4 linked regions of the Homo sapiens genome follow. The protein of the gene in region 3 binds, or shares a complex with, the protein of the main gene of each other region. Each region holds a gene or a part of one and is shown on either strand. Other genes may lie near its edges. The genes, in order: MED13, MED13L, MED1 and MED12.

Region 1 (7,928 bases), about 23 Mb from region 3:
ACTACATTAAATACACACAACTAAGGACTGGACTCTGCAGCAGGCATCTTATTAGAAAAACTACAAAAGCTGGAAAGCTTTCTTGAAGAATTGCAGTCACTCTCAAAAATAACAATTAACACTGGAGAGTATGTTCATTAGAATGTGAAAAGCAATTATCAAAACATACAAATGTAACACGTACATTCCTACATAAATGTTGGTCTTACTAAGTACCAGTTCAAGATACAGACACCTAGAATACATTCTATCCAAAAATAAAATAGATCCTATAGGTCAGAGATACAATAACAAAAACTTCAGAGTACTCAATTTCAAATAAGAACTTAAAAAAAATTATCTAGAAATCCTAAGTTTATCTGTCAAAAATCATTATCAAACTATCTTACTGAAGTCTTTGGAACCTTATAGCATACAACCAATCATTTATATTCCTATTATCTAAGATTCAGTTAATACTGACTTTCACAATTTAAAGCTTCAGTAATTATATGAAAAGCTATAGTTTCTCTTTCTAAAGTAGCATTTGGTCCTAAAAGTCAAGAAAATAAGGAAGTAATCACATTGATTTGCTCACAATAAAATTGTTTGTGTAACCTTTTAGATTATGATCCCATGTCCCATAAAAGCTAAACAAGTTGGCACTTTTCTCTTATTATGTTTGACAGAACAGTATATGAGTCACTTTCCAAAAATAACTAAATTAACATATGCCTTCATAAGTTAATCAAATAGCACAAATGACAATAACAAAATACATGCCTTAAAACACACACACACACACACACACCACACACACACACACACACACACACACGGATAGTTACATTTCCAGTACTTTTAGAATCATCTGCCTATTCAATGCAAAAGACTCAACTTCAGCAGTGGCTGAAGTGACTCAAAAGTTACATCTGGCTTCTAAACTATTACACGACTTTGTTAGGAACTCTGTTTCCTGATTCCATTTTTTTAGATTAATGTAACATGCCTTCTTCGGGCCCTAACTACCTGTGAGAAATTAAGAAGAGAGGTGGTGGAAGGAGAAAGTCATTCACGCCTTAAAAACCCAGCTATAACAACATGGATAATTTAAGTAAAATAAAATAATCATGGTGAAATAAAACAATGAAGCTGAATTTTTATCTGGCCTCCTAAGTCTCCCACAAAAACAAACTTAATTTGTAATACATATGACATTCTGGGAGAAGTATACAATGTTGCTATATCATTAGTTAGAAATGGAAAGTTTCTTTCACCTGATAAGTCATGGTGAATAAGGTCAGCAAAACTGGGGTCTTCACCCCACCAAAATATCCACAATTCTCTTCTTCCAGGTCTTTGATCTCGCCGCCAAACACCAAGTACATCTGCCTTAAGGCAGCGACTAAAACTGCTCAAAATGGGGTCTTCTTCTGTCACAGGAAACAGAATAGGGGCAGAAGTTGGGCCTTGCCATACATATTTTTTCCACTTAATTCCTGTCAAGTCAGCCTGAAGGAAAGAAAGCATTAAGTTTTATTACTGCATATTCACTCAAAGTCAAAAGTACTCAATATGATGTCTCTTATTTCATTAAGACATTACAATTTTTCAATGTATGCTTGAGATATTGACTGCAAATTAGAACAAAAAAAGACTTTATAATTCAACAACCAAGAATTTTAGGGAGAAGAATACAGTTAAAAATTACCACCACCATGTCACTGAATAGCAAGCAAATATGTACTCCAAGTAGAAACAGAAGAAACTGAATGATGTTAAATATAGACACACACTTCAATATGCAAACAGAGTACATTTTTCTCTGTCCTAACTGGTCACATTTGTTCACTGGTGTCAAACTTTTAACTGAAAATCAATTATTAAAGACCCTATCATGGGTTTTTATTCCACATTTACAGAAGTAACGTCTCTAATGAAAAGACATCTGAACAAGTTCTGAAAAAATCTATGTTAATTCTTCACACACACCCCTGTCGGAAAAGTCAAATAGCTACTCACAAAGAACTGTCAGATTTGTGCTAGTCTATCTTCAAAGAACTGATCCTAAAAGTACCAAAAATAGACTGAGTTGGATAAGATAGAAATATAAAACCTGGTGTATGTCTTATTACATGTGAAGAGATGCTGATTAATGGACATTGAAAAGAAAAACATACTGTAGACGAGGATAGAGTATTAAAGATCTCAATTTAGCATGGGCGTTAAGAAATTCGACAAGAGGAATTCAGTAATTTAATCTAACTTAAAGGAGCAAAGCATAAGGTGCCAAAAATGAAACTGCTGATACATGACTGGCAGTTTACACTTGCCAACTAGTTGTGCTCCTCCCACTTAACTCACTTACCTATCATATACTCTTAATATTTCTCATAGCACAAAGGAGAAAATGAAAAAGTAAAGTCACCCAAACTTAAAGTCATTGATGAAGCTCAGCTACTGTCCCATACAGGACAAGTTATTTGCAACAGTTGGTACTTCTGAAAGCCTTAACTGTTGGATGTTACCAGACCTGGGCTAACCTACACAATGATCATCCCTACATCCCGCTTCTCTCGACTTTCCATTTCAATCAAACAAGGGAGCAGCCTGCTCAAAACATTCTGAAAAAGCAACCAAAACACAATAAATATAGAAACAGTGCAAAACCACAGCACCTCGTCCACTAGCCCCCTTCACTCTCACAAAAACATCATGTTCTAATAAAAGCAAGATGGCTAGAAATTGTCAAAAATGGCAAACTGTTTTCAAAGTTTAAAAAGAAAACATATGAAATGGCACCTACTGGCTTTTACAGAGAGATCTTAAGTCACCCAAGAAAGAAACTAACCTGGCGTTAGTTTGACTCATACAAAAAAAATGTAAAACCAAGACAGGTTTCTAGGGCTTAAGTTCTGGGGTCCTGTTTACATGGGGAAACCAAATTAAAAGGGTAAGACATAAAGGCGGTGGGGAGCAGGGGCAATAATGTAAAGTGTGAAGCAGGGATACAGGGCCAATAAGGAGAAAAGCAACAGTTAAGCAAGACAAGAGGGAAAGGTTACTGTCCTGCCAGATAAGGAGCTCAAGTTGAGGACGAGACTACGGTGAGAAGGAGAGTCCGAAACAAGACGAGAAAAAATGCCAACACTCCCCTAAACAGAGCCCGGGACCGTAGGAGAGCGAACGCCGCCTCCCGGGGCTGGCCGCGGAGCTTCGCAGGGCGCCGGCTCCGGCTGGGCCTCGCCCGGGAACTCGGGCATCTGGACCAGACCCGGCCCCCTCCCCCACGGCCCAAGGGCGCACCTCGCGGCCCCCCTCCCTCGGCGCCCGCCGGCCCCGGCACTCACCAGGCAGAAGAGGTTACAGTGACAATCTTCCAGGCTGGCCCCGTTCGGCACGAAGGAGGCACTCATCGTCCCTCACAGCAGCCGCCGCCGGCGCCACAACCCACCATCCGCCATTACCGCCGCCTCCGACCAGAGAGAGAAACACAGACACCGGGGAGGGCCGGGGGGGGGGTAGTGGTTGGGGGGGCGGTGGAAGAGGAGGCCGCCGGGCGCCCGCCCTCCCCACCCACCCCCCCGCCGCCGCCGCCGCCGCCGCCGCCGCGAGCAGCCCCCGCCGCCCGGCCGGCACCCAGCCGCCCGGGGCCGAGGGCCGGAGGCGGGAGGGCCGCGCCGCGCTCGCCTGGCGGGCCGGACTGCGGATCCCGCAGACGCTCGTCCCTCTCTGGGGGACGGAGGGGATGTGTGCCCCTACCACAAGAAAAATAATAAATTACACAATAAATAATCAAAATCAAGTCCGAGACGGCAGAGCCCAAGCCCAGGACGGTTCTCCCGGGCGGAGAGGCGCCCGCACAGGAGCGGGAAGGGCGAGAACCGGGAGAGAAGCCCAGGCCCCCGGCGCGGCAGCGGCGATGTCCTTAAGCCCAGAGTCTCCTCAGCGGCGGAGGTGGTGGCGGCGTCTGCGGGCTCAGACCATTCTCTGGCTCTGTCTTCGTGTCGTTCCTGGGCCAAGCCGGCCTAAAGTTTGCCCTCCTGTGGCCTCACCGGCTGGACGCCGTAGTCTCCCCCATTTTGTGGGCCCAGCGGGCGGTGTTTTTCCCCCTTTAATCCGAATTCACGGGTTTTCCCTTCGCTTTAATGGCGGCCACAGGGACCAGCTCGCCCTCTCTGCTCACCCATTGGCCGCCTTGAGGTCACGTGGGCCCGGGCTCGGTTGGGAGGGGGAGAGAGAAGTGAGCGAGGGAGGGCCGGGAAGCTTTCGGCGGAGGCGGTGAGCTCGGGGGACGGGGCAGCCAGCTGGTGGCCACTAACATAGCGCCATCTGCTGGGTGCCCCGGCCAGTATAAAACGACCCGGGGCCCTGGCCCTCTCTTTGCGGGGAAATTTACAGTCCAGGAAGGTTCATTTCACAAATCAGTGAGAATTACGTGGAAATCAGTTTGAGTTCTTTGGAAGAGAAAGTATTGGCAAAAATTCCAAGACATTCTCATTTATTTCGCGAGGCCGCTGGGGTGCAGGTGCAAACCTCTGGATTTGGGAGTCAGATGATCTGGATGGGGATAAGACTCCTCAACCTAAAAGTTGTGATATGAAGATATAAATTTAAGAAACAAAATATTGCCCTGTAGTTAATAGACTGGGAATTAGAGCCACACTGCCTGGGTTCCAAGCTTGAGCAAATCACTTCCTGCTCTGTGTCTTTACTCATCTGTAAAATGGGGAAAACATATCCCTTACCCCACAAGCTTATTGTAATGAGTTAATACAAATTAAGCAGGTAGCCCAGTGCCCCGCACAGATAAGCACTGTTAAGAGTTAACTATTATTGTTGTCATCATTACCTCATATAGTTATTGTGACGAGCAGGAGAACTAGTGTATGTAAAGGTCTCACTATTTTTTTGTTGTTTACTTCTGTCTCTCTAGTGCCTAAAAAAAGGTTCCTAGCACACAGTAGGTGCTTGATATTTGTATAGTTACAAATGAATGGGTGGTAAGAAGTAAGAACCAAACAAAAGGTTTATTCTCTTTCCCATAAAACACCCAGTGCTTGGATGGGTTACACTTCAATATGAGTTCAAAACAGTTTCTCTGACGGTTTTAGGATTGCAAGAAAGAAAGAAGAAGAAAAAGATGATTCAGAAGTTAGAAACATCAGTGAGTTAGGACTTACTGTAATTTTATGTATTACAGATACATAATTATGTATTATGTATTACAGATACATAATTGTATCTGTAAAATGAATGGTAGACTCTTCCATGTCACTTCTTCAGCCACGGAATGAAAAGAAGTCCTCATTTATCCACTTGTTCATCTGTGGTGGTGAAGAGCCCAGATCTGAAGCCCAAAGCCTGGAGAAAAAGTTCTGCCCCTCACTAGTTAGTCTTAGATCATATTTGACCTTAGATCAAATTAATTTTGCTTTCTCTCGGTTATTGTAAAATGGGGGTAATAAAAGTACTTTTCTTCTAAAATGACTGGTGAATGAAACAATGTAGATACAGTGCTTGCCACAGTGCTTACTTAATGTTAATTATTAATGTAATTTTAAAAATCATTGAGAACCTGCTGGCTCAATTGAGTGTGTTCCTGCTCTGTGCTAGGCCTAGGATACAAATAGGAATAAGATACCTGCCTGTCCCTCAAGATTCCTGAAGAGAGGCACTAAAGGAAACATTTCCTACAGAATAAGGTAAAATACAATGGGGGTAATTGCTTGAATAAAGTATGTACCTACTATGGCATAGTAAGTGCACTAGAAGAAGAGCATCAAACTTAGAGAAGTTGTCATAAAGTAGGTAGCATTTGAAATCAGATTTGAAGGATAAAATGAATTCTTATAAAGCCCTTTGAAGCAGTTAAATCTTATTAAACCTAATTCGAACCCAAAGTCCACATATCAAAGTCAATTATGCAACCAGGACTAATTCAATCCAGGAGCTCAAATCAACTAAGGTTGGCATCCTTTATAACCGAGTGCCAGCACCAGGAGACAGCAATCCCCAGATCCAATGAGGTAAGCGCTCCTCTGCCCATTTCCCGTTCCCTGAAAAACTCCTCAGATCTTTGTTCCGCTGCTTTCCTCAGGCTGAAATGCCCTCCTCACATCTAAAGGGGTCTCCATTCTCCTTAGAAGTCTTGCCCTCCCATTGCCCCCACCCCCTGACTTGAGCACCATCCTCAGGATTCCAATGGCAGGTAGAATATACCTGAAACCTACCAGTAGGAGGTAACATTTGATTGACCTTTCTGTTTGAATGTCAATCTTTTCAAAAAGAAGAGGGAGACAAGGAGACAGAAGCGAAGAAGGGAGGAAGACCCAGAAGAAAAAGTCTGATGGAGGATCGCAGAAGGGAGCAGGAGAGAGAGAGAAAGACAGGACTGAGAGAATGGAGAAGCAGATTAGAATGGGGGGGATCCCAGTTGTGAGGGGAATGGAATCATTGGGAGAAGGGAAAGAGAAGAAATAAATATTTTCAGCCCACAAAGAACGTATCAGTAACCACTTACATTCGGTAAAAATGACATTTTGTGTGATTTAAAGAGTAATGGAGGCCGGGTGCAGTGGCTCACGCCTGTAATCCCAGCACTTTGGGAGGCCGAGGCGGGCAGATCATGAGGCCAGGAGATCAAGACCATCCTGGCTAACACGGTGAAACCCTGTCTCTACTAAAAACACAAAAAGGCGGGCGCCTGTAGTCTCAGCTACTCGGGAGGCTGAGGCAGGAGAATGGCGTGAACCCGGGAGGCGGAGCTTGCAGTGAGCTGAGATCGCGCCACTGCACACCAGCCTGGGCGACAGAGTGAGACTCCGTTCTCAAAAAAAAGAAAAAGAGAGTAATGGAAATACGGACTTTGGGTATACCATCCTGGTGGGGGATGTTGATAATGAGGGAGGCTGTGTATGTGTGGGGGCAGGAGTTATATGGGATTTTTAAAAAGTAATGGAAATAACTAAAAACATTACACACATATTGTCGGCCAGGTGTGCTGTGTCACGCTTGTAATCCCAGCACTTTGGGAAGCCGAGGCAGGTGGATCACCTGAGGTCAGGAGTTCAAAACCAGCCTGGCCAACATGGTGAAACCCCATCTCTACTAAAAATACAAAAATTAGCCAGGCGTGGTGGCACATGCCTATAGTCCCAGCTACTTGGGAGGCTGAGACAGGAGAATTGCTTGAACCCGGGAGGCAGAGGTTGCAGTGAGCCAAGATCACGCCACTGCACTCCAGCCTGGGTGACAGGGTGAGACTCTATCTCAAAATAAATAAATAAAAACATTACACACACATTGTCAAAAGTTTGGCAGATACATAAAAGCGTAAAGATGAAAATTTTAAATGTACATTACCCAAAAAAGTCCGTATCATTACCATTCATAATTAATCACTTTTTAACATTTTGATGTATTGACTTTTCCCTATGTATCTTTTTCCTACATGGTTGAGATCATACTATATGACCACTTAACTACCCACATGTATTAACCATCTAGTATGTGTCAGGTCATGTATTGACAAAATACAGCATATACAAGCAGCTCATAATCTTGCTTATAATGGCACTTGAACAGTTAGACCAACTGGGGTCAAAACTCCATACTTGGCCCAGCACGGTGGCTCATGCCTGTAATCCCAGCACTTTGGGAGGCTGAGGTGGGCAGATTGCTTGAACCCAGGAGTTTGAGACCAACCTGGGCAGCATGACGAAACCCCCCGCTGCAAAAAAAATAAAAAAATTAGCCGGGCGTGGTGACACGTGCCTGTAGTCCTAGCTACTTGGGAGGTAGAGGTGGGGAGGTTGATTAAGCCTGGGAAGTTAAGATTGCACCACTGCACTCCAGCCTGGGTGACAGAGTGAGACCCTGTCTCAAAAAGCAAGCAAACAAGCAGAACTCCATGCTTGCTAGCTCCCTAACTTCAATTTACCCCTTTG
Region 2 (7,964 bases), on a different chromosome or scaffold from region 3:
GTTCAAACCATGGTAAGAGTTCTGATTTCTGCAGAATTTCCAAAATTAAAAATAAAAAAAAATAAAATAACTTCTCACTCTGTAGCAAATCCAGGGCTTGTACATTTCAGATTAATTCAGTAAAAAACTCACAAGTAAAATAATGCATATTTAAGGGAAATATTATACAGACTTTTTCACACAGAAGTACATAATAAGATTTTTTAAAATCTATTGCCATTCATTTATTTTTGCACAAAAACGTATAAATATGTCACCAGCTTTTCTTAACTTAAAAAACTTAAATAAAAGACACCAGATGAAAACTACCCTTTGCTGCCATTTTTTTTAAAGTTTTTTTGTAGGGGTTTTTTATTTTTTGTGTTTTTTTTCTTTTTCTGCTTAGAATTGGGTTTCTAGGGAAGAAAAGCCCCTGCATTAAAAACAGCCCATTTAAAAAAAAAATTCAAAGTTCTGATGAATTCCGGGAAAAAAGCAACCCCAAAGTGGTAAAAGATTACAAATATCTACTTTACAATTTGTCTTCTCACCAAGATAATTTTATACAAGTTTACAATCTTCATCTTCTTATGCTCTTCAAAAGGCCTTGAGAATTTTCCTTTCTGATTAAGAAAAAATAGCACTGCAATATTTTTAAAGTCAATTTTACACTGTACACATTAGATACAAATGGTTTGATATATCAGATTTTTTATCCTATACATTGCGAAAGTCAACCCCCCCTTCAACTGGTGGTACAGAGAACAAAATTATCCATTTACAAGTTATTTCTCTGCTTTCACATTCCCACCACACAACTTTTTTTTTAATATAATGTTTTAAACTTTAGATTATTTCAAGAAAAATACTTTTACAAAATCATATCAATTATTACATTTTTCCTTTTTTGTTAATAACCAGGACATGGAAGTCTCTTGGAAGAACTTTTAAAATTTGCATGATTCTCTCCACAGATGACAAGAGCTCAAAGGCCTGGTCACAGTGGCTCCCGGGAGGCCAGTACACACCCACTGTCCTCAGACAGAAACACACAACACAAGGGTTAGAAACAGGGTTTCAAAGACAACCCTCTGGGCCAGGAATGAGGAGTCATAAAATACTTCAATTAGCCATTAATGCTTTAAAAAGGCATTTTTTTAAAAAGTCCCACCACAAAGGCTCAACTTCAAGTACTAATTTAATGGTTAAGTTGTAATATTTCTTTGAAATAATATTCCTATGGTCCAGAAAAAATTCACCATATTTATAACTGATTTCATGAGCAAACACTTTCAATTGTTGTATGTACATAAGTCCCTTTTGATCTAATGAGAGGAGAGACCTGGCTTCCAATAAGAATTCACTAGAAAATATATTTCCGTTGTGACTATATAAAACTAATTAAGGTACTTGCCTCCATGGCTCTGAGTTGAGCTTGACTGCCTTCTGTATAAAAATGTTATCCTTCATGAAATGCTGGCCACTTAACATGGCAGAACTTTTAAAATCCAGTTTGTTGTTAACAAAACCTACTGCTGGGTGGTTTTGAATATATTACTTTTAGGCATGATCTCCCCAATGTGTTTTTACTCCTTTTCCGGCTTCTAGGACAGAGGTATGTAGTCAAAGAATCCTATGGTGGATCTGAATTGGGTTTCAGCTACTGTACCTGGTCCTTGTGAATTAAAAAAATAAAGTCACAAAAACCATATGACAAAACAAATTAAAATAAATAAACAAAATGAAGCTGTCTCCAGACCTTCTGCATTGACACACAGGTTTGAAGTCAACCAAAGCACTCATGCTAATCTGGATGGGAACACTAGGGAGACAGAAACCCCAGTATGAAACCATGTACTTGAGCTGGTTCTTATTTTTAAAAAGTCCCAGATTATGGAGTTCAGGTAACCCACAGGCCATACACCAGTAACTAAGAGGATTTCATCCAAAGGGCTAGACTGCCCTCAATTGTATACAGAGGCTGAAAACACAGACTCTTGTGCAAAAGGACACTGTCTCTTCTGTTTCCCGCTGAAAAGCCATCAACCACCACCACTTCCTGGGGACCAGTGGTTGGGGCTACACACACCACCGCACTGGCTGAAAGTCACCACTTATGGAAGTTTCCAGGTCCATGAGAGAAGTGTCAAGGAGTCACTCTGGTAATGAACACTGCAGAATTGACATGTGCCTGCTGAGAAGGAATCACAGTGCAGGACTGTGGAGAGTGGTCTGAAGAAAAGGATGTGGGTTATTTGCAGAGTGTAGCAGGTTCCTTGGACTGAGGTTGCAGGGAGAAGGAACTGAGCCAGAGAGAACAAGTGCTTTTCCAATTAAAGTATATTCATGATGGCATTGTACAACTGAGTGAGCACCACAAAGTGGACGGGAAGGCAGGAAGTACGGTCCTGGGTGGCCGGATTGCACGTGAGCCAGGACAGAGCGTTGTACTGCTCCAAAACAAACCTGCCAAAGAGAACACACAGAGCAGGGGCGTGAGCCTCAAGAGGGAAGGCTGGTTCTCAGATTCTAATACATTCCAGATCTTAGCAGGAAGGAGGTCTCAAAGGCATTCCTTAACTTGCCCCAGGCTCTTTCCCTCATCCTTTGTCTCATGTTCCTCCTTCCTTCTAGATATGGACTATCCAGTACAGTAGCCAGCAGCCACACATGGCCATTGAGCTCCGCCAGTGAGGCCAGTAGGAACTTGCGTGGACTGCAGGTAAAGTAGGCACTGGAGCCCAAACACTTAGGGGCCAGGTGCAGTGGCTCACGCCTGGAATCCCAGCAACTTTGGGAGGCCGAGGTGGGGGTGGATCACCTGAGGTCAGGAGTTCAAGACCAGGTGGCCAACATGGTGAAACCCCATCTCTATTAAAAATACAAAAATTAGTCAGGCGTGGTGGTGCATGCCTGTAATCCCAGCTACTTGGGAGGCTGAGGCAGGAGAATTGCTTGAACCTGTGGGCGGAGGTTGCAGTGAGATCATGCCACTGCACTCCAGCCTGGGTGACAGAGCAGGACTCCGTCTCCAAAAAAAAAAGAAAAAGAAAACGAAAAAAAGAAAAGTATGTAAAATATTTCATGAATATTTTTATATTGTTACATGTTGAAATAACATTTTGAGTATATTGAGTTAAATAAAATATATTACTAAAATTAACCAGTTTCTTTTTACTATTTTAATGTGGCTAACAGAAAAATTTTAATTAGATTTGAGGTTCACATTGTATTTCTATTGGACAGTGTTCCTCTAGGGCAGCAGTCTCCAACCTTTTTTGGCACCAGGGACCAGTTTCGTGGAAGACAATTTTTCCACGTGGTGGGGGATGGTTTCAGGATGAAACTGTTCCACCTTAAATCATTAGGAGTCTCATAAAGAGTACACAACCTAGATCCCTTGCATGTGCGGTTCACAATAGGGTTTGTGCCCCTATGAGAATCTAATGTCATTGCCTGACAGGAGGCGGAGCACAGGCTGTAATGCTCGCTCACTTGCTACTTACCGCATGCTGTGGGGCCTGGTTCCTAACAAGGCATGGACGGGGGTTGGGGACCCCTGCTCTAGGGGGCCTGGAAGCCAAATTTATGTTGATCAGGTTCTTTATTTTTATCCATAACTATAATTATACATTAATCTATAATATATAGTTTCCTATCATTTCCTAACCATTTAAGAGTTAGAAAACATTAGAAAAGGCCTGTATATTTTCTCAAGGTAGATGAAGAATGCCTGTGGCTTGATTAATACACACTTCTGGAATGCACTTCTCAACTATGTCATTTATGTTCTAGTCCATTTTTAAAAAAACACATAATCGGTGGCTCATGCCTGTAATCTCAGCACTCTGGGAGGCTGAGGCAGGCAGATCATGAGGTCAGATCGAGATCATCCTGGCTAACACGGTGAAATCCCGTCTCTACTAAAAATACAAAAAATTAGCCGGGCATTCTGGCGGGTGCCTGTAGTCCCAGCTACTTGGGAGGCTGAGGCAGGAGAATGGCATGAACCCAGGAGGCGGAGTTTGCAGTGAGCTGAGATCACGCCTCTGCACTCCAGCCTGGGTGACAGAGCGAGACTCCATCTCGAATAAACAAACAAAAATACATAATCTATCTCAGGAAGCATAAAAAGTGTTTTCAATGTGAGGTGCTTTAAGAGTTCCAGACACTGTCTTCTAACTATCCACCCCCAAGATCTGACCTCTCTTCATCACCATGAAGTGCCTGCTCTGAACAGGAAGCAAAGGCAACTATAAATGCCTATCACTGCCTAACTGAATCCAATGTATTACACCGCCTGTCCCATGCAGCTATGAGGGACTGCAGCTCTCACTGACTCATCAGATACTGTATCACTGCACAAACGGCAGCTTCTATGAATACCACACTTAGATTAAAACACCTTGGAAAGACAACAGTAAAGGAATATTGTTTCAAATTGCACTGCTATGATGCCTAGGTTGGTATCTACCTTAAAACATCCGACGTGGTTTTGGAGTCAAGAGGGTGTGGAACCCGCTGAGAATTCCTGGCAGGCAGAAGTTCGTCTGTCTGTGCTACTGAAATGTGGTGATGCAGCGAAGCCTGGTGAAAAAACAAAGAGAGTTACCTCTCTGGTCTAGACAATCACAGTGCAGAAGTGAGGGAGGCCATGTCTGCCAGAAGCAGATGCTCCCAAAAGTCCGTAGAAGTCAGGGTTTCTGTGAGTCTACAAATTTTAACCTGCTCAGTAACCCCCAAGGTAATCCCAAATAACTTCTTATCCTAGAGTTGGAAAAAAACAAAAAAAAAGCAAACTTTTTGGGCTTTTTTTGTCTACTACATTTTGTTTCTTCAATGGAAATAGTCTAGCACACACAAAAATACTATAATATATAATAAGGTCCCATGAATTGATATCGCCAAGATGCAACAATTATCAATATTCACCACTTTTCTGTTTTCATTTTCTTTTTCTGAATTAAACACAAATATTACCATCTCTATAAAACATTAAAAAAAAATAGCTGGGCATGGTGGTGTGTGCCTGTAGTCCCAGCTACTCAGAAGGCTGAAGCTGGAAGATTGCTTGAGCCTGGGAGGATGAGGATGCAGTGAGCTGTGATTGCACCACTGTGCTCCAGCCTGGGCAACAGAGCAAGACTCTGTCTCCAAAAAAAAGAAACAAACAAACCAACCCCCAAAAAACCCTCCCCACAAAAAAACAAATATTGTATTATTTTGCTTGTAAAAAGTCAGTAGATGTCTCACATAAGGACCTTTAAACATAACAGTAATTATCACAGAAAAATTAACAATGATTCCTTAATATTATCACCCCATCTGTAGGATAATGAGGAAGATAATGCTCCATTATCTCAAAAATGTCTTTTTATAATTGGTTTACTAAAATCATGAGCCAACATGATCTGTACATGACAAATGATTAAAGGCATGAAATGTCTACTGTCCCACTTGAAGTCACATGATTCATCACTGGGTTCAGGTGATACCAGGACACTACATCCATCATAAAGTTCCTCATCAACTTTTCACCTAATGGTTTTGGTATTACTTTACATGTAAAGGAGAGGCAACATATAAATGCTTCTTTCTCTTTATTTTTTTATTTTTCAGACTGAGTTGATGCTCTAGCAACAAATGATGACTGATTTTTTGTTTGTTTTCCAACACAATTATGAACCAAGGATTTGTTTCATTCTATCACTGTCATCATTTTTTTTAATGATCACACTGTCCCATCCTATCCCTGGACAACAGAGCTGCCCCCTAAGATGGCTCCTGAGGCCCTGCTGGACCATAATAATCTTTGGTAACTTTCTTCCTTTTAGGTGTGACAAGATGCCTCAGGTTCATTGTGAATATTTCCTGCTGCATATCTGGAATCAGTCATCTCTTCAAAGAACCACAGTTCCTTTAAATGACAACGGTGTGCAGGAACCACATTCGTGGCAACAGAGGTGTTTATTGCTGCTAAGCTTTTTCAGCAGACAGAGCTAAAAAAATGTGTATACTTTTTTAGAGAGGAAAAATAAATCTATGCTCATATTGATAATTCTAATTCAAAATAAAGAACACATGCATTTTTATAAACCTTCTTTGATTTTATAATAGTATGTTAAAGTCATTAGGAAAAGAACATTGCTTCACTGTCTAATAAGTTTTTGGTTTAATTTCCATCGTTTCTTTCTGAAAATATACACAGCTATGTGTGTACGTGTATATGTGTGTGAATGTGCATATCTTATAGATTACTCCATGGTAATCTCTACTCCACAGAATGATTACATAGAAATGGTCTCCATTTTGTTGTAGATGATTAATATTTCACTGTCTGGATGCACCACAGTTGATTCAATCAGTCCCTCACTGATGACACTTAGGTTCTTTCTAGTCTTGGACATATGTCATTTTCTGTTTTGGCAAAGAACCTTTGGGCTATTCCTTAGAGGTGGGATTGCTGCCCTGAAAGGGAAGTGTGTAGGGCTATATCATTCAGCAATCCCACCAACACCAGGGCCTGCTCCCCACATCTGGCCAACACAGTATGCTGCCAAATCTTTGTATTTTTGCCAATCTGTGGGCAAGAGATGGATTTCATTCTAGGTATTGCTGTTTTTAACATAAACTGCAAGTAGGGGATCTTTTGTTTTGAACCCTTAAAATTGGGATTAAAAGGTTCCAAGAAATATAAAGGAAGGAGCAAGTGTAAATGTGCGATGTTTTTAGCTGACTCTTACTCTTCTCTAATGAAGAATGTGAAGAGTCCCTGGCAGGGGAAGAAGAGGATGGCTGGTTATTATACCTTCGACACAGGCTTAACTTTACTGATAGTGATGCAATATAGACTTGGAGAAAGACCATCACATTGAACCCCATGCATCCATCCTAGATTTACCCTCTGGGCCCCACTGTTTCCTCCTTGGGCTACAGTGATTCATTTCTTTGTGACATGGTTTTGGGTCCTCCTAAATTCTACTCTCCACCTACAACTGTAATTAAAATTTCCTCAGAGTATAAGTAGATACAAGAGAAAAAAGGAACAGAATAAGATTATGGTGACTAAAACTGAAATTTCTAACCAAAATTAAATTTAAGCGTAAATCACTCATTCCTTGCAAACTTCTAATATGACACCAAACCAACCTTTAAGAAGAGAGGGCACTGGTTTTGAGCCTGGGGACACGATGACCAAAACCACTGGGGAAGATTCTCAGCTTTGGCAGTTGATACAAAATACCCAAGGGCCAGGGGCTGCTGCTTTAGCTCCTCTGGTGCTTCTCTAGAAAGAAGACGCTCACCCTGGCTCTGAAAAACAAAAATCCCAAAAACATGATCAGCATTTATCTTAAAGCTTGAAAAATGAACTTTCATCAGTTCACTCTGCACACTGCAGTGAGTGATCCCCTTTGTGGCAGCATCTCACAGAAAACAACAGGTGACTGAGAAAGGTAAGCGGGGCCAGCATCGTCTTTGCTGCACACATAGAGAAGATACCAGCAAAACTGACAGCCTCAGTCAAGTAAGTACAGATTTATTTGCTTGGGTTTCTTTTCTAAGGGATGTAAGATCTATTTCATGGCATTATGATGTAACAAACTAAAATGGAAAGATTACAATCTCTGACAGCAGAAGGCTCTACCACACGCAGGTGCTCTTTCACCAGCAACCAGCCAAAGACACACAAGCGCACCAGCCTGACCAGGACAATGTGACACCAGTATGTGCACAGCACAAAAGTTCCTGAGCTGCCAGTAGTGCAAGATCTGCTCACAGAGAAGCCATGTTTTCATTTGCAGCATTCCCCTTAATAAGAGACTCCTGGAAGAGGCTATGTTTTGCTGCAACTGACACTTTTCTTATCTTTTAATTCTTTTAGCTAGCTTCATCAATTGAAAATGTACCTTTCATGCAAGCAATAAGTAATGCATTTGTTTTTAAAAGTCTCTGTTTATGCTGGGTGCGGTGGCTCACACCTGTAA
Region 3 (7,964 bases):
AAAAGGAGTCACAAAGAATGCTCCAAATGACTTAAATGATATTCTTTTAAGACAGAAAGATTCATCCTTCCAAAACCGTAAACATATTCAGTAGTTCAAATGCTTGTAATTTACATAAAGTTCACTGATTAGGGTTAGCTGTGGCCTATGCAGTACTAAAGGTCAAAAAAAAAAGATCTATTTGAAAAATTACCGAACCTTTCTCCTCTCCTGTTTTCATTACTCCTTATGTGGGACAAACTGCCTTTAACTTAAGACACATTTATCTGCTAATGATAGAATAAGGAAGATTAACATTAAAACTAACATTAAAAAAAACTCAACATTAACAACACCATTAATCACAACAGTCAAAAGGTTAAAACAATCCAAGTGTCCACTAGCAGATGAATGGATAAATGAAATGTATATACATAAAGAGGAGTATTTTTCAACCTTAAAAAAGAAAGAAATTCTAATAAATGCTTCAAAATAGATGAACCTTGAAGACATTACGTTTAGTGAAATAAGCCAGTCACAAAAGGACAAATATATGATTCCACTTATATCAGGTATACAGAGTAGTCAAATTCATAAAGACAGGAAGCAGAATGGTGGCTGCCAGGGACTGGGGGAAGGCGGGAATGGGACATTACAGAATGTAAGCTTGGGAAGATGAGTGAAGTTTTACAGATGGACAGTGGTGATGATTATACAATAATATGAATGTACTTAACGCTACTGAACTATACACTTAGAAACAAAGAAAATGGTAAATTTTGTTACCTATATTTTACCACAATTAAAACAGAAAAAAAGGCCTCGTGCGGTGGCTGACGCCTGTAATCCTAACACTTTCGGAGACCGAGGCATGCGGATCACAAGGTCAGGGGTTCAAGACCAGCCTGACCAACGTGGTGAAACCCTGTCTCTAATAAAAATACAAAAATTAGCCAGGTGTGGTGGTGCGCGCCTATAATCCCACCCTCTCGGGAGGCTGAGGCAAGAGAATCTCTTGAACCCGGTGGGGGCGCAGTGGTTGCAGTGAGCAGAGATCGTGCCACTGCACTCCAGCCTGGGTGACACAGCGACACTCTGTCTCAAAGAAAAAGAAAACAAAAAAAGGTAAAGAAGATAATACTCAGCTGAGACTGGGCAAAGTGGCTCACGCCTGTAATCCCAACACTTTGGGAGGCCAAGGCAGGCAGATCACCTGAGGTCAGGAGTCCAAGACCACCCTGGCCAACATGGTGAAACCCCATCTCTACTAAAAATCCAAAAATTAGCTGAGCATGGTAATGGGCGCCTGTAATCCCAGTTACTCAGGAGGCTGAGGCAGAACAATCACTTGAATCCGGGAAACGGAGGTTGCAGTGAGCAGAGATCGTGCCACTGCACTCCAGCCTGGACGACAGAGTGAGACACTGTCTCCAGAAAAAAAAAAAAAAACCCTCAGCTGAATTAGGTTCATTTCTGGTGGATCACAGTAAAATCTGTTTTTACTTTCATTATTCCCCAAAAATAGAATTAGTCATTATAAGCATGAATAATCAAGCTCATGACTTATATTTTACATTTGCTTTCCTGGAAATTTGCTCCATAAACACCGTAAAAATCTTTTTAGAGTTAAAATGTCCATCTTCTGGACAGGCATGGTAGCTCACGCCTGTAATCCCAGCAATTTGGGAGGCCGAGGCGGGTGGATCACGAGGTCAGGAGATCTATACTATCCTGGCTAACACGGTGAAACCCCATCTCTACTAAAAATACAAAACATTAGCCAGGCGTGGTGGGACGCGCCTGTAGTCCCAGCTGCTTGGGAGGCTGAGCCAGGAGAATCGCTTGAACCCAGGAGGTGGAGGTTGCAGTGAGCCAAGATTGTGCCACTGCACTCCAGCCTGGGTGACAGAGTGAGACACCGTCTCGGAAAAAAAAAAAAAAAAAAAAAAACTTCGCGAGTTGCTGTGGCTCGCGCCTGTGATCCCAGAACTTTGGGAGGCCAAGGTGGGCAGATCACCTGAGGTCAAGAGATCGAGACCAGCCTGACCAACATGGAAAACCCTGTCTCTACTAAAAATATAAAATTACCCGGGCATGGTGGCACATGCCTGTAATCCCAGCTACTTGGGAGGCTGAGGCAGGAGAATCGCTTGAACCCAGGAGGCAGAGGTTGTGGTGAGCCGAGATTCCACCACTGCACTCCAGCCAGAGCAACAAGAGTGAAACTCCATCTCAAAAAAAAAAAAAAAAAAAAAAAAAGTCCATCTTCTTATCGAGATTAATCAGAAATAAATGTGAAGGGAAAAAAAACTTTTCCCAGGTATCTTTTTTTTTTTTTTTTTTTTTTTTGAGACAAGTCTTGCCCTGTTGCCCAGGCTGGAGTGTAATGGCGTGATTTTGGCTCACTGCAACCTCCGCCTCCCCAGGTCACACTGTTCTCCTGCCTCAGCCTCCCGAGAAGCTGGGATTATAGGTGCCCGCCACCACGTCCAGCTAATTTTTGTATTTTTAGTAGAGACAGGGTTTCACCATGTTGGCCAGGCTGGTCTCAAACTCCTGACCTTGTGATCCGCCCACCTCAGCCTCCCAAAGTGCTGGGATTACAGGAGCGAGCCACCGCACCCAGCCTCCCCAGGTATCTTATATTACCCTTCATCATTTATCTTTTAAATCTCTATCAGCCTCCAAAACAGGATCAAAAATAAATGTTTCAAACTTTAGCAAAAAGATCATTCCAACTCCATAAATGAATGCAAGAGCAATATCTAATACATAAAGTTGACCTACCTCAATTTTTTACTTCTAGTTTAAGTATAAAATGGTCCTTCTTGAACTGGGGGTTTTGTGAAATCAGCATATTTCAAAAGTGTTCACAAACCTTTGAGAGCCTTCTGCAATGTCTCCAAACAGCTGACCAAATGTTGATGCCCTCCAGAACTCATCACAACCCTCTTCTCCTGTGTCAAGTGGGAAAACATTTGAGGTGAAAATTAACCAGGCCAACAGTGTTTTAGGTAAACATACACATTATCCTAGTAGTAATATTGCAGGACAGTCTATAGACTCAATATAGTCTATAGATTTTGTAGACTATATAGAGTAACACTGGTCTACAAGTGTTACTCTGTCCATCCATGCAAAATCCATATATATGAGTGTAGAAAAAGGTATTCCTCAGCCAGGCACGTGGCTCATGCCTGTAATTCTAGCACACTGAGAGGCCAAAGCTGAATAATCACTTGAGTCCAGGAGTTCGAGACCAGCCAAGGCAAGATAGAGAGATCCTGTTTCTATTTAGTCAAAAACAAAAAAGAAAACGTTGTATTTCCACATCTAAAACAAAAAAACCTTTAGAGAAATATTAGGAAGAATCAAAATGTAATACATGAGATCTGCCGCCTGTGGAAGTGACCACATGCTAAGATATAAACAGTTAAATAAGATGGCTCAGGAGATTTGGTAGTGTACAAATTTAACAAGGTGATTTGCATGTAATCTGAGAAACACAACCAAATTTTAAGAAAATGAGATTGACTCTAAAAAACAGAACATATAGGCTGGGTGCGGTGGCTCACACCTGTAATCCCAGCACTTTGGGAGGTCAAGGCGGGTGGATCACGAGGTCAAGAGACTGAGACCATCCTGGCCAAAATGGTGAAACCCCGTCTCTACTAAAAATACAAAAATTATCTGGGCGTGGTGGTGCACGCCTATAGTCCCAGCTACTCAGCAGGCTGAGGCAGGAGAATCACTTGAACCCAGGAGGCGGAGGTTGCAGTGAGCCGAGATCACACCACTGCACTCCAGCCTGGCGACAGAGAGAGACTCTGTCTCAAAAAAAAAAAGAAAAAGAAAAGAAACAGAACATGTAGTCCAGAAAAGGGACTTCCAAAGAACAAAAACTTAGCCTAGTTTGAGGCCGGTTGCAGTGGCTCACGCCTGTAATCCCAGCACTTTGGGAGGCCAAGGCGAGCAGATCATGAGGTCAGGAGTTCGAGACCAGCCTGGCCAACATAGTGAAACCCCATCTCTACTAAAAATACAAAAATTAGCCAGGTGTGGTGGTACGCGCCTGTAGTCCCAGCTACTCAGGAGGCTGAGGCAGGAGAATCGCTTGACCCGGGGATGCAGAGGTTGCAGTGAGCCAAGACCACACCATTGCACTCCAACCTTGGTGACAGAGTGAGACTCCATCTCAAACAAAACAAAACAAACAAACAAACAAAAAAAAACTTAGCCTAGTTTTCCTAACCCTATCCAGTGAAGAAGTTTCTCTCTGAAAAACATTCCAGTCCCTAAAAACGTGAACAGTTTTCTGGTATAAGGATAGTTTTCCAGGCTTTTCCATGTTGCAAATAAATCTATCTCACTGCTCTAATTCTCCCTTACAAAACAAAGTAATTTATTAATAATCTGAAATCTCTTGATTCTTGACAGGAGAAGAGGTGCTCTGGTCAATGAATACCAGTATTATGAAAACTGGAAAACTAAATGTTTTGTCATAAATTAATAAATAAGCATACAGTATGTCAGTTGTTGAAAACTCTTTTTTTTTTTTTGAGATGGAGTCTCGCTCCGATGCCCAGACTGGAGTGCAGTAGCATGATCTTGGCTCACTGCAACCTCCACCTCCCGGGTTCAAGCGGTTCTGCTGTCTCAGCCTCCCGAGTAGCTGGGACTACAGGCGCCTGCCACTATGCCCAGCTAATTTTGTCTTTTTAGTAGAGACAGGGTTTTACCTTGTTGGTCAGCCTGGTCTCGAACTCCTGACCTCAGGTGATCGACCCGCCTCAGCCTCCCAAAGTGCTGGGATTACAGATGTGAACCACCACGCCCAGCCATGAAAACTCTATAAAATCTTGATGTACCAATAAAATTAGGTTTCTGAATCTGCAAAACTGAAAAGTAGACAAGCAAAGTCATGGTGACCAAACCAAGAGAGTGGTACCCAAAGAGAGGGCCTTATTAGCCACCTGGAATCCTTCTATCTCACAATGTCTCTCTAATGACAGTATCATTTACAGAACATATTTCAAGCTAGAATTTGGTTGCCTTAAGGAATAAAAATGACAACCTGGGCCAGGCACAGGGGCTCACACCCGTAATCACAGCACTTTGGGAGGCTGAGGCAGGTGGATCACAAGGTCAGGAGTTCAAGACCAGCCTGGCTAACATGGTGAAACCCCATCTCTACTAAAAATACAAAAATTAACTGGGCATGGTGGCGGATGCCTGTAATACCAGCTACTCAGGAGGCTGGGGCAGGAGAATCGCTTGAACCCAGGAGGCGGAGGATGCAGTGAGCCAAGATCCCACCACTGCACTCCAGCCTAGGTGACAGACAGAGATTCCATCTTTAAAAAAAAAAAAAAAAAATGAATCCGCCAGGCACGGTGGCTCACACTGTAATCCTAACACTTTGGGAGGCCAAAGTGGGTGGATCACTTGAGCCCACAAGTTTGAGACCAGCCTGAGCCACAGAGTAAAAACCTATTTCTGGCTAAGCGCAGTGGCTACGCCTGTAATCCCAGCACTTTGAGAGGCCGAGACGGGTGGATCACGAGGTCAGGAGATCGAGACCATCCTGGCTAACACGGTGAAACCCCGTCTCTACTAAAAATACAAAAAGTTAGCCGGGAATAGTGGCAGGGGCCTGTAGTCCCAGCTACTCGGGAGGCTGAGGCAGGAGAACGGCATGAACCCGGGAGGCAAAGCTTGCAGTGAGCCGAGATCGCACCACTGCACTCCAGCCTGGGTGACAAAGCGACACTCCATCTCAAAAAAAAAAAAAAAAAAACGATTTCTACAAAAAATATAAAAAACTAGCTGGGCAGCCGGGCACAGTGGCTCACGCCTGTAATCCCAGCACTTTGGGAGGCAGATCACGAGGTCAGGAGATGGAGACCATCCTGACCAACATGGTGAAACCCCATCTCTACTAAAATACAAAAAATTAGCCAGGCGTGGTGGCGTGTGCCTGTAGTCCCGGCTACTCGGGAGGCTGACGCAGGGGAATCTCTTGAACCTAAGAGGCAGAGGTTGCAGTGAGCCGAGATCGCACCATTGCACTCCAGCCTGGCCACAGAGCAAGACTCCATCTCAAAGAAAAAAAAAAAAAAACTAGCTGGACATGGTTACATGCACCTGTTGTTCCAGATACTAGGAGGCTGAGGTGGGAGAACCACCTGAGCCTGGGAAGTTGAAGCTGCAGTGAGCCATGATCGCGCCACTGCACTTGAGCCTGGATGATAAGACCTGGTCTCAAAAAAAAGAATGAATCAAAAATTCTACTAGTACAGGCTGGGCATACCTAATCTGAAAATCAAAAATCTGAAATGCTCCCAAATCCAAAACCTTTTTAGCATTCCCAATGATGCCACCAAGGATTTCACACCTGACCTCACATAACAGGGTCATAGTCAAAATGCAGTCAAAACGGCTGGACGCGGTGGCTCACGCCTGTAATCCCAGCACTTTGGGAGGCGAAGGCAGGTGGATCACCTGAGGTCTGGAGGTCAAGACCAGCCTGACCAACATGGAGAAACCCCGTCTCTACAAATAATATAAAAATTAGCTGGGCGTGGTGGCGCATGCCTGTAATCCCAGCTATTCGGGAGGCTGAGGCAGAAGAATCACTTGAACCTGGGAGGCAGAGGTTGCAGTGAGCCGAGATCGGGCTATTACAACCCAGCCTGGGCAACAAGAGTGAAACTCCGTCTCAATAAAAAAAAAAAACAAAAAAAAACTTAGTTTCACACACAAAAGTATTAAATATATTATTAAATATGTTGTATAAAATTACCTTCAGGCTATATCTATAAGGTGTTTATGAAACATAAATAAATTATGTGTTTAGACTTGGGTCCCATCCCCAAGATATCTCATTATATATTTGCAAATATTCCAAAATCCAAAACAATCCAAAATCTAAAACACTTCCGGTCCCAAGCATTTCATATAAGGGATATTCAACCTGTAGTATAGATACAATAGACTCCTAAAGTTGAAACCACCATGTATTCAGATGTTTTATGAAGATAGTATGAACACATCTACATGGGGAGCTTAGCGTATTAAGAATAATTATCTAAGCAAAACACTTTACCCACTTCACCACAATCCTTACCATGACTTGACGCACAAGCTTAATGGTTTCACTCCAGGGTCTATTTTGGTTAAATTTTGCATGGAGCCGTTCCAGGAGAGAACTCATCTTACTCAGCTTTTCTGACTCTATGATTTAAATCAGAAAACGTTATCAGTAACTGTTCTATCAAGACCATCCACAGTTTTCCTTGCAAAATAAATTCCCACACTTCATCACAGTAAGAATTCAGTTAAAATATTTTCCAAAATCATTTTACTTCAAAACATCCAAAGAAGACATTTTTAATGGCAAGATGACACACAAGTTATGGGTCTGATGTAAGGAATACCATACCACTGGACTGTTATCTATCCACCTTTTTTTTTTTTTTTTTAAAGACTAAGTTTCACTCTTGATGACCAGGCTGGAGTGTCAAACCCTGTCTCTACCGAAAATACAAAATTAGCCAGATGTGGTGGTGCATGCCTGTAATCCCAGCTACTTGGGAGGCTAAGGGAGGAGAATTGCTTGAATCCAGGAGGCAGAGGTTGCAGTGAGCCGAGATCACACTATTGCACTCCAGCATGGGCAACAGAGCGAAACACTGTCTCAAAAAAAAAAAGAAAGAAAAAAATTAGCCAAGCCTCCTGGCATGTGCCTGTAGTCAGTCCCCAGCTACTCTGGAGGCTGAGGCAGAAGGATCACCTCAGCCTGGGAGGTCGAAGCTTCAGTGATGAGCCTTGATCACACCACTTACTCCATCCTAGGCAACAGAGGGAGACATTGTGTCAAAAAAAAAAAAAAAAAAGTTATTGAACTGGGCTAGAGAGGAAAATTTAAAAAAAAGAAAAAAAATAAATGAAAATGCTGGCTGGGCGGAGTGGCTCACGCCTGTAAT
Region 4 (7,964 bases), on a different chromosome or scaffold from region 3:
CTTAGTGAGAACCCTGCTAACCGCTACAGCTTTGTCTGCAATGCCCTTATGCACGTCTGTGTGGGGCACCATGATCCCGATAGGTATGGGGTGTACTGAGTGAGGAAGGGCACCATGCCCCCATCTGAGATAGGGAGGGCTGAGGTACCCGGGAGGTACTACAACCTTGATTATTTAGTGGGGCAGAGATGAGAAGTTAATGGGTCTGAGGTTTTGTGGAGCAAGGTTTTTCCTGAGGGCATTTGTACTTTTCCCTAGGGTGAATGACATCGCAATCCTGTGTGCAGAGCTGACCGGCTATTGCAAGTCACTGAGTGCAGAATGGCTAGGAGTGCTTAAGGCCTTGTGCTGCTCCTCTAACAATGGCACTTGTGGTTTCAACGATCTCCTCTGCAATGTTGATGTGAGACTTGGGGTGGGGTTTTGCTAGTGGGGCAGTGACCAGGGCAGGGGGCTGGTTGTGATCCTCTGACCAGGGACAGAGTTCCGTAGAGTGGAGGCACACCGCTTTGAGTGGGCCTCCACACTGAGTCATGGTGTCTGTCTGTTTTTTCCTCCAGGTCAGTGACCTATCTTTTCATGACTCGCTGGCTACTTTTGTTGCCATCCTCATCGCTCGGCAGTGTTTGCTCCTGGAAGATCTGATTCGCTGTGCTGCCATCCCTTCACTCCTTAATGCTGGTGAACTACCAATCTGTAACCCCTAGCATTTCTAGACCTCAAATTTCAATACACACTGGACGGCCATCCTCTCATTGTTCACTGTGGGAGACCTTGCTGCGGCTCCCTGGCCTTCCTCAGAAGGCCAGTCCTTTGGTATGCTGAAGGCTAGAAGAAACCTGTTTTTTAGCCCTGGATTTGCAGCCCTGACCTTTCCAATTTCTGACCCTTCAACTGCGTAACAGTTCTCTGCTCTACCTCGCTTTCAATATTATCTTGCTTTTTCTCCTTTCACTTTACCTCATCTTCTCTCCCATGCCCCTGCCATACACTTGCATGCATGCAGGCACGCACACACATAAACCCACATACAGTTTAACTTCATCCCTTCCAGATCTGTTTTGTCTTCCTTTTAGCTTGTAGTGAACAGGACTCTGAGCCAGGGGCCCGGCTTACCTGCCGCATCCTCCTTCACCTTTTCAAGACACCGCAGCTCAATCCTTGCCAGTCTGATGGAAGTAAGTGACCCTGATCTGAACCAGCCAACAGTAGAAAGTGTGGTTCCCCTGCCTCCGTGGATTCTACTTTTGCTTCCCCTGACTTCATCGCCTTCCCCAGACAAGCCTACAGTAGGAATCCGCTCCTCCTGCGACCGCCACCTGCTGGCTGCCTCCCAGAACCGCATCGTGGATGGAGCCGTGTTTGCTGTTCTCAAGGCTGTGTTTGTACTTGGTACGGGGGTAGGAAGGGAGTGGTGCCAGAAGTGTGTATAGGGTGGAGTGCCAGCTAAACTACAAGGGACAGTCTTTCTCCCTTCTGAAGGTGGTCTCTCTGACCTTTGGGGAGGAGGGGAGGGAGAGAAGTATATTTCTGTCCCATAGGGCAGGATTTGGGGTGTTTCTACCTCTGTGGGCCCAGGGTGGGTCTCCACACGTGTTCCAATCTCACTCTGCCCTCCCTATCTCCCACCCGTGAACCACAGGGGATGCGGAACTGAAAGGTTCAGGCTTCACTGTGACAGGAGGAACAGAAGAACTTCCAGAGGAGGAGGGAGGAGGTGGCAGTGGTGGTCGGAGGCAGGGTGGCCGCAACATCTCTGTGGAGACAGCCAGTCTGGATGTCTATGCCAAGTACGTGCTGCGCAGCATCTGCCAACAGGTCAGTTTCACCTTCCTCCCACACCTCCTAAATGCCTCTGTGTAATATAGTTCTGTTTCCAGCCCATGATCACACCAGCTCCCTACTATACATTGTGTTCCTTAACAACTCCAGCCCATCCCCCATATTCCTAACCCCCTCACTGGTTGTTCCCAGTCCCTGATTGTCAGCTTCCTCAGGAATGGGTAGGAGAACGTTGCCTTAAGTCTCTGTGTGAGGACAGCAATGACCTGCAAGACCCAGTGTTGAGTAGTGCCCAGGCGCAGCGCCTCATGCAGCTCATTTGCTATCCACATCGACTGCTGGACAATGAGGATGGGGAAAACCCCCAGCGGCAGCGCATAAAGCGCATTCTCCAGGTAGGCCAAGGCCGTGGGGGCTGTGGAGGAAGCAGTGGGCCCAATCTGGGGAGAAACAATAGGAACCTTGAGAAAAGGAGAGGGGCAGTTAAGTAGAGAGGAAGACAAACAAGGATATAGGGGAGGGGAGAGGTAGCGAGAGAAACAGCTCCAGCATGGGCTGAGGAGTAAGTCCAGTAGGGTCTAGACTCCAGTGTAAGAGTATTAGGTGAGGGCATAGCTATCTGGAGTGAATCTAGCTTATCAATGGGAAGCATAGCATCTGGGAGGCCTAGGTGTGGGCCGTGTATATTTGGCATTTTGGCCATGGCTCAGGAACTGAATAGTAATAGCTACTACTTGCTGAGCATGTGCTTTGTGCCAGGTACTGTGCTAGGCACTCTGCACACATTTCCTCATTTAATCTTTATGACCCTATGAAGTAGGTGAGCCTCCCTGTTTGACCGATGAGGAAACTGAGGCTTGAAGAGGTTAAGTAACTTGTCTAACGTCACATAGCCCATAAGTTTAGAGTCAATATGTGAACCCAGACATGTCTGTGCACTTTCCTCTTCACATTGCTTCACACCTTCAGATGACCAGAGAGTGGAAAAATAAAGCCGTTGAGGAAAAGCTAAAGGAATAAGGTCTCTTCAGCCCAGAAGAGATAGTGTTGAAGAGAGATTAGCTAACAGTAGCCTTCTGGTCTCTACAGGACTTTGAGAGATTGTCTTATAAAGGTTCTGTCAGGGACTTTGAGCAGCTGGTCTAAAACAAGAGAAGCAGGCTTCAACTTTAACATCAAGGGTTTCAAGGTTAAGCATTAAGCAGAACTTCCTGATACGAAGGGATGGGAAAGATGTGAAATCTTTCCTGAACTATTTTAAAAATTGGAAAGATTTTCAACTAGTTTGGACTATTTAAATGTAGTCTTTTTTTTTTTTTTTTTTTTGAGACGGAGTCTCGCTCTTGTCGCTCAGGCTGGAGTACAGTGGTGCGATCTCGGCTCACTGCAACCTCTGCCTCCCAAGTTCAAACAATTCTCCTGCCTCAGCCTCCTGAGTAACTGGGATTACAGGTCGCCCATCACCACGCCCAGCTAATTTTTGTATTTTTAGTAGAGATGGGGTTTTGCCATGTTGGCCAGGCTGGTCTTGAACTCCTGACCTCAGGTGATCCGCCTGTCTCAGCCTCCCTAAATGTAGTCTTTCTTAAAGATGGGGACATAGAGGTCCCTTTCAGACCTCCAGGAGTCTGTGATTCAATGTTGCAGGAGATCAGGAATTGGCCTCAGATTGTTGGGTAGCTGGGGGTAACACGATGATGACTAGCCTGGGTGTGGGGCCTCTATCACAGAACTTGGACCAGTGGACCATGCGCCAGTCTTCCTTGGAGCTGCAGCTCATGATCAAGCAGACCCCTAACAATGTGAGTAGTGCCTGGACCCTCCCTTTCCTGTGCTCACGTTCAGCTCCATGTGTCAGGGAGGCGGTCCACCACAGAAGAACCTAGATCCTACCCTTGGGCTCTTGAGCTGAGAGATAAGAGGGGATGGGAAAATGGTGAACAAGTGGAGCTGATGATAAGGGAAATGGGTTGAGAGTGTTGGAGCTCTGAGCTGTGGGGAAGCTTGGTGGTGGTGGTGGAGCCTGTTTCTCTGGCCATAGATGTAAGGAGGTATGTAAAGGAGAAGACAGTGAGGAATTGGAGAAATATGGAGGTACTAGAGGGCATGATTCCCAACAGAGTTGCGTTCCTATCTCCCCATCAATCTCCGCCAGTGTTGTCCTTCTCCGTCATCTCCGATCTCTCCTACCATCTGCTTTCCTTCACCCTTAGCTACCTATTTTAGCACTTCTGTGCCTTTCATCCTCCCCAGGAGATGAACTCCCTCTTGGAGAACATCGCCAAGGCCACAATCGAGGTTTTCCAACAGTCAGCAGAGACAGGGTCATCTTCTGGAAGTACTGCAAGCAACATGCCCAGCAGCAGCAAGACCAAGCCTGTGCTCAGGTCGGATAGAAACATGTTAGGACCCATCCCCTTAGGAGTTTATCTGCTGGTAGCGTGAGTGATATCAGATGCGTGGAGATGCCAGCATGTCCATCAGGGAAAGGAGAGGATAGATTGTTCCAGCCTTGCCTGGCTCCCCTGTGACCCTGTGTCCTCTGTCTGTTCTCCAGCTCTCTAGAGCGCTCTGGTGTATGGCTGGTGGCCCCCCTCATTGCTAAACTGCCCACCTCAGTCCAGGGACATGTGTTAAAGGCTGCTGGGGAAGAATTGGAGAAGGGTCAGCACCTGGGTTCCTCTTCACGCAAAGAACGTGATCGACAAAAGCAGAAGAGGTAAAGGGGCTTAGGGAGTGGACCAAGATTGAGGGGTAGAAAGGAGAAGAGGCAGGCCCGGGGAAGAATAAAATGGGCCAAGGAGAAGCATCATAGGAAAGTGGAAAATCAGAGGATAAGAGTGGGCATGGCTGAGCAAGAGGCTAGATCTTAAGAGAGTAGTCTGGAGAATGAGGTTGGAAGTTGACTCCCAACCCACAGTCTCCCTTTTCTCCTCTCCTCTTCTCTCCTCTTCTCTTCTCTTCTCTTCTCTTCTCTTCTCTTCTCTTCTCTTCTCTTCTCTTCTCTTCTTTCTCTTGTCTCTAGCATGTCCCTATTGAGCCAGCAGCCCTTCTTATCGCTGGTGCTAACATGTCTGAAAGGGCAGGATGAACAACGCGAGGGACTCCTTACCTCCCTCTACAGCCAGGTGCACCAGGTACAGATCTCTGGGCCATGGAGGTGGGCAGGAGGTCAGGGAAGGATGCACCTAAGGGGTTACTCTGTACTTGGAAACTTCAGTACTTTCTGATAAACATATTGGCTGCTGTGGGATGGAAACACGAAGATCCCTGAGCTGCATATTTTATTTGTTTCTATTCTAGATTGTGAATAATTGGCGAGATGACCAGTACTTAGATGATTGCAAACCAAAGCAGCTTATGCATGAGGCACTCAAACTGCGGCTCAACCTGGTGAGAAGGCCAGCTGGGGAGAAGAAGGAAGAGGGTAGGGCTGGAAATGCGGAGTGCAAAAGCCTCAGGTTGGGGAGAATGGGGGTAAGGATAGAGGCCCCAGGTTATTCTGAGTCTTGAAGGGTTTTTTTTTTTTTTGGAGTCAGAGTCTCACTCTGTCACCCAAGCTGGAGTGCAGTGGCGCCATCTCAGCTCACTGCAACCTCCACCTCCTGGGTTCAAGTGATTCTCGTGCCTCAACCTCCTGAGTAGCTGGGATTACAGGTGTGTACCACCACACCTGGCTAATTTTTGTATTTTTCATAGAGATGGGGTTTGACCATGCTGGTCAGGCTGGTCTTGAACTCCTTACCTCAAATGATCCGTCTGTCTCGGCCTCCCAAAGTGCTGGGATTACAGGCATGAGCCACCGTGCCCAGCCTGAGTCTTGAAGTATTAACCTTGTTCTCTGAAAGTATGCAGGGACTGAAAGTGGTTAAGGGGGCTGGATCACTGTGGTCATGGTCCAATAGGTTATGTACCCTGGATCCTTGCAGGGCCTCTGCCTCAGTATCCTAGATTCTGACTGGGCCCTAGAAGCACTGGAAACCCACTGTGGAATGTTGAATGGAATCCTGGAAATCATTCTGTCCAATTCCCATCACTTTCTAAGTATGGAAACAGAGGCCTAGAGACGTCAAGAATTCCGTCATTGTCTTGAGATCATGTAGCAAATCATAGGCTCAACTCAAGCATGGCCGGGCGCGGTGGCTCACGCCTGTAATCCCAGCACTTTGGGAGGCCGAGGTGGGCGGATCACGAGGTCAGGAGATCGAGACCATCCTGGTTAACACGATGAAACCCCGTCTCTACTAAAAATACAAAAAAAATTAGCTGGGCGTGGTGGCAGGCGCCTGTAGTCCCAGCTACTCGGGAGGCTGAGGCAGGAGAATGGCGTGAACCCGGGAGGCGGAGTTTGCAGTAAGCCGAGGTCGCGCCACTGCACTCTAGCCTGGGTGACAGAGCGAGACTCCGTCTCAAAAAAAAAAAAAAAAAAAAACTCAAGCATGAACTCAGGCGTCCCAACTCAGATTGGAACTAAGCTTTCCTGAAACTCTGGCCTTTGTCCCTGAGCCATCTGACTGACTTGTTGTGGCCCTGGCAGGTGGGGGGCATGTTTGACACGGTGCAGCGCAGCACCCAGCAGACCACGGAGTGGGCCATGCTCCTCCTGGAGATCATCATCAGCGGCACTGTCGACATGCAGTCCAACAAGTAAAGCATCCCCACCCGCTCCCTGCAGTTTCATACCCAAGAAGCTCCCCCTACTCCCATGCCAGGTGCACCCACTGAGATTGGTGTGGCTGTTACTGTGGACTCCGTGGCCCTGGGCTCCCCATACAGTTTTGGTGCCCTTGGGATGACATATTAAGCACCTCTCCCTGCTTGTGTCCTCTGCTGAGGCCTTTTTCTATCTTCACCTCTTTCTTCTTTGGTTTTCTCTCTGGCTTCCTGTCTCAGTGAGCTCTTCACTACTGTGTTGGACATGCTGAGCGTGCTCATCAATGGGACATTGGCTGCAGACATGTCTAGCATCTCGCAAGGTAGCATGGAGGAAAACAAGCGTGCATACATGAACCTGGCGAAGAAGTTGCAGGTAAGCAGAGGAAGCGGGGGCAAGGTTTGCGGTTACTGGAATCTGCTGTCCAGCCTCAGGAACTTGCTTCTGGCTGGAGCCCTCTACCTTTCCTTCTCACGTCTGCCTTTTCTTTGTTACTCATGCCGTGAGCATTTACTGAGTGGGGGTCTTCTCTGTGCCAGGTTCTGTGCTGTCCCCTGAGACTTCCCATCCCTGTTTTCTGTATCTCTGAACTCTTGTCCCATCTTCCTGTGCCTGCAGAAGGAGTTGGGGGAGCGCCAGTCAGACAGTCTGGAAAAGGTTCGCCAGCTGCTGCCACTGCCCAAGCAGACCCGAGATGTCATCACGTGTGAGCCACAGGGCTCCCTTATCGATACCAAGGGCAACAAGATTGCTGGCTTCGATTCCATCTTCAAGAAGGAGGCATGTTCCATTGTCTGCCCGTGTCCCTTGCCTTTTTTCCCCTTTGGGCAAGAACTTTGCCTGCATCAGCTTTGTAGCTCCAACAGACTCATCAGATTCAGGAGCCCATCAGTCTCTGCCGGTGAACACCATCTCTGGGGTTTTGAGCAAATCACTTAACTTTCCTTACATTTCATCTCCATCTTTGAAGTCCCACCCTCTTTCCTTCACCCTGCCCTCACCTTTTAACATACCACCCATTTTTCAATACCCTACCCTCCTCTTTCCTCTGCTCCACCTGCCCCATGTCCTACCCCACCCATCTATCTGGCCGACAGCCTGTATCTCTTTTATTTCTGTGTTTCCCTACACCCACCCATCTCTGCACACTTTTATCTTTTCCCTCTCTGTCAGTTGCGGTATTTGTTGAGTAACCATAATTATTGTGTATAGTTTAAAACCCAAAGTCTAACTCCTTCATATATACATTCTCTTCATCTGTCTTCCTAGTCCATCTGTCTCTTTTCCTCCGTCTCTGTCTCTCTCCCTGTCTGACTCGTTTGCCTTTCTTTGTCTCTCCACCTTTTTGTCTCTCTCTTCCTGTTTCTTTCTCTCTCTGACTCTTTCTCGGCCTGCCTAAAGGCAGAGTCTCTCCCTGCCTTCCTCTCTCTCTTTCTCTGCCTTCCTTTTTCTGTCTTCCTCTGAATGTCAATCCCTCTCCCTCCCCGCTCCCTCTCTGGCTTTCTCCCCAACCCCTTTCTCTCCCGAT

What was found.
Region 1: MED1 (region 3) and MED13 share a complex: the UniProt entries of both Homo sapiens proteins name them as parts of the mediator complex.
Region 2: MED1 (region 3) and MED13L share a complex: the UniProt entries of both Homo sapiens proteins name them as parts of the mediator complex.
Region 4: MED1 (region 3) and MED12 share a complex: the UniProt entries of both Homo sapiens proteins name them as parts of the mediator complex.

The regions. Positions count from the first base shown.
Region 1 is NC_000017.11:62,061,811-62,069,738, forward strand, and holds the start of MED13 (mediator of RNA polymerase II transcription subunit 13), read right to left. Parts: upstream 3,469-7,928; 5' UTR 3,396-3,468; coding exon 3,330-3,395; intron 1,492-3,329; coding exon 1,257-1,491; intron 1-1,256. UniProt on the Homo sapiens protein: Component of the Mediator complex, a coactivator involved in the regulated transcription of nearly all RNA polymerase II-dependent genes.
Region 2 is NC_000012.12:115,958,954-115,966,917, forward strand, and holds part of MED13L (mediator of RNA polymerase II transcription subunit 13-like), read right to left. Parts: intron 7,291-7,964; coding exon 7,129-7,290; intron 4,567-7,128; coding exon 4,454-4,566; intron 2,446-4,453; coding exon 2,313-2,445; 3' UTR 1-2,312. UniProt on the Homo sapiens protein: Component of the Mediator complex, a coactivator involved in the regulated transcription of nearly all RNA polymerase II-dependent genes.
Region 3 is NC_000017.11:39,440,693-39,448,656, forward strand, and holds part of MED1 (mediator of RNA polymerase II transcription subunit 1), read right to left. Parts: intron 7,213-7,964; coding exon 7,106-7,212; intron 2,937-7,105; coding exon 2,858-2,936; intron 1-2,857. UniProt on the Homo sapiens protein: Component of the Mediator complex, a coactivator involved in the regulated transcription of nearly all RNA polymerase II-dependent genes.
Region 4 is NC_000023.11:71,128,038-71,136,001, forward strand, and holds part of MED12 (mediator of RNA polymerase II transcription subunit 12), read left to right. Parts: coding exon 1-83; intron 84-258; coding exon 259-403; intron 404-560; coding exon 561-681; intron 682-1,076; coding exon 1,077-1,178; intron 1,179-1,278; coding exon 1,279-1,392; intron 1,393-1,642; coding exon 1,643-1,818; intron 1,819-1,997; coding exon 1,998-2,177; intron 2,178-3,512; coding exon 3,513-3,584; intron 3,585-4,035; coding exon 4,036-4,169; intron 4,170-4,339; coding exon 4,340-4,501; intron 4,502-4,807; coding exon 4,808-4,919; intron 4,920-5,085; coding exon 5,086-5,175; intron 5,176-6,319; coding exon 6,320-6,429; intron 6,430-6,675; coding exon 6,676-6,811; intron 6,812-7,054; coding exon 7,055-7,216; intron 7,217-7,964. UniProt on the Homo sapiens protein: Component of the Mediator complex, a coactivator involved in the regulated transcription of nearly all RNA polymerase II-dependent genes.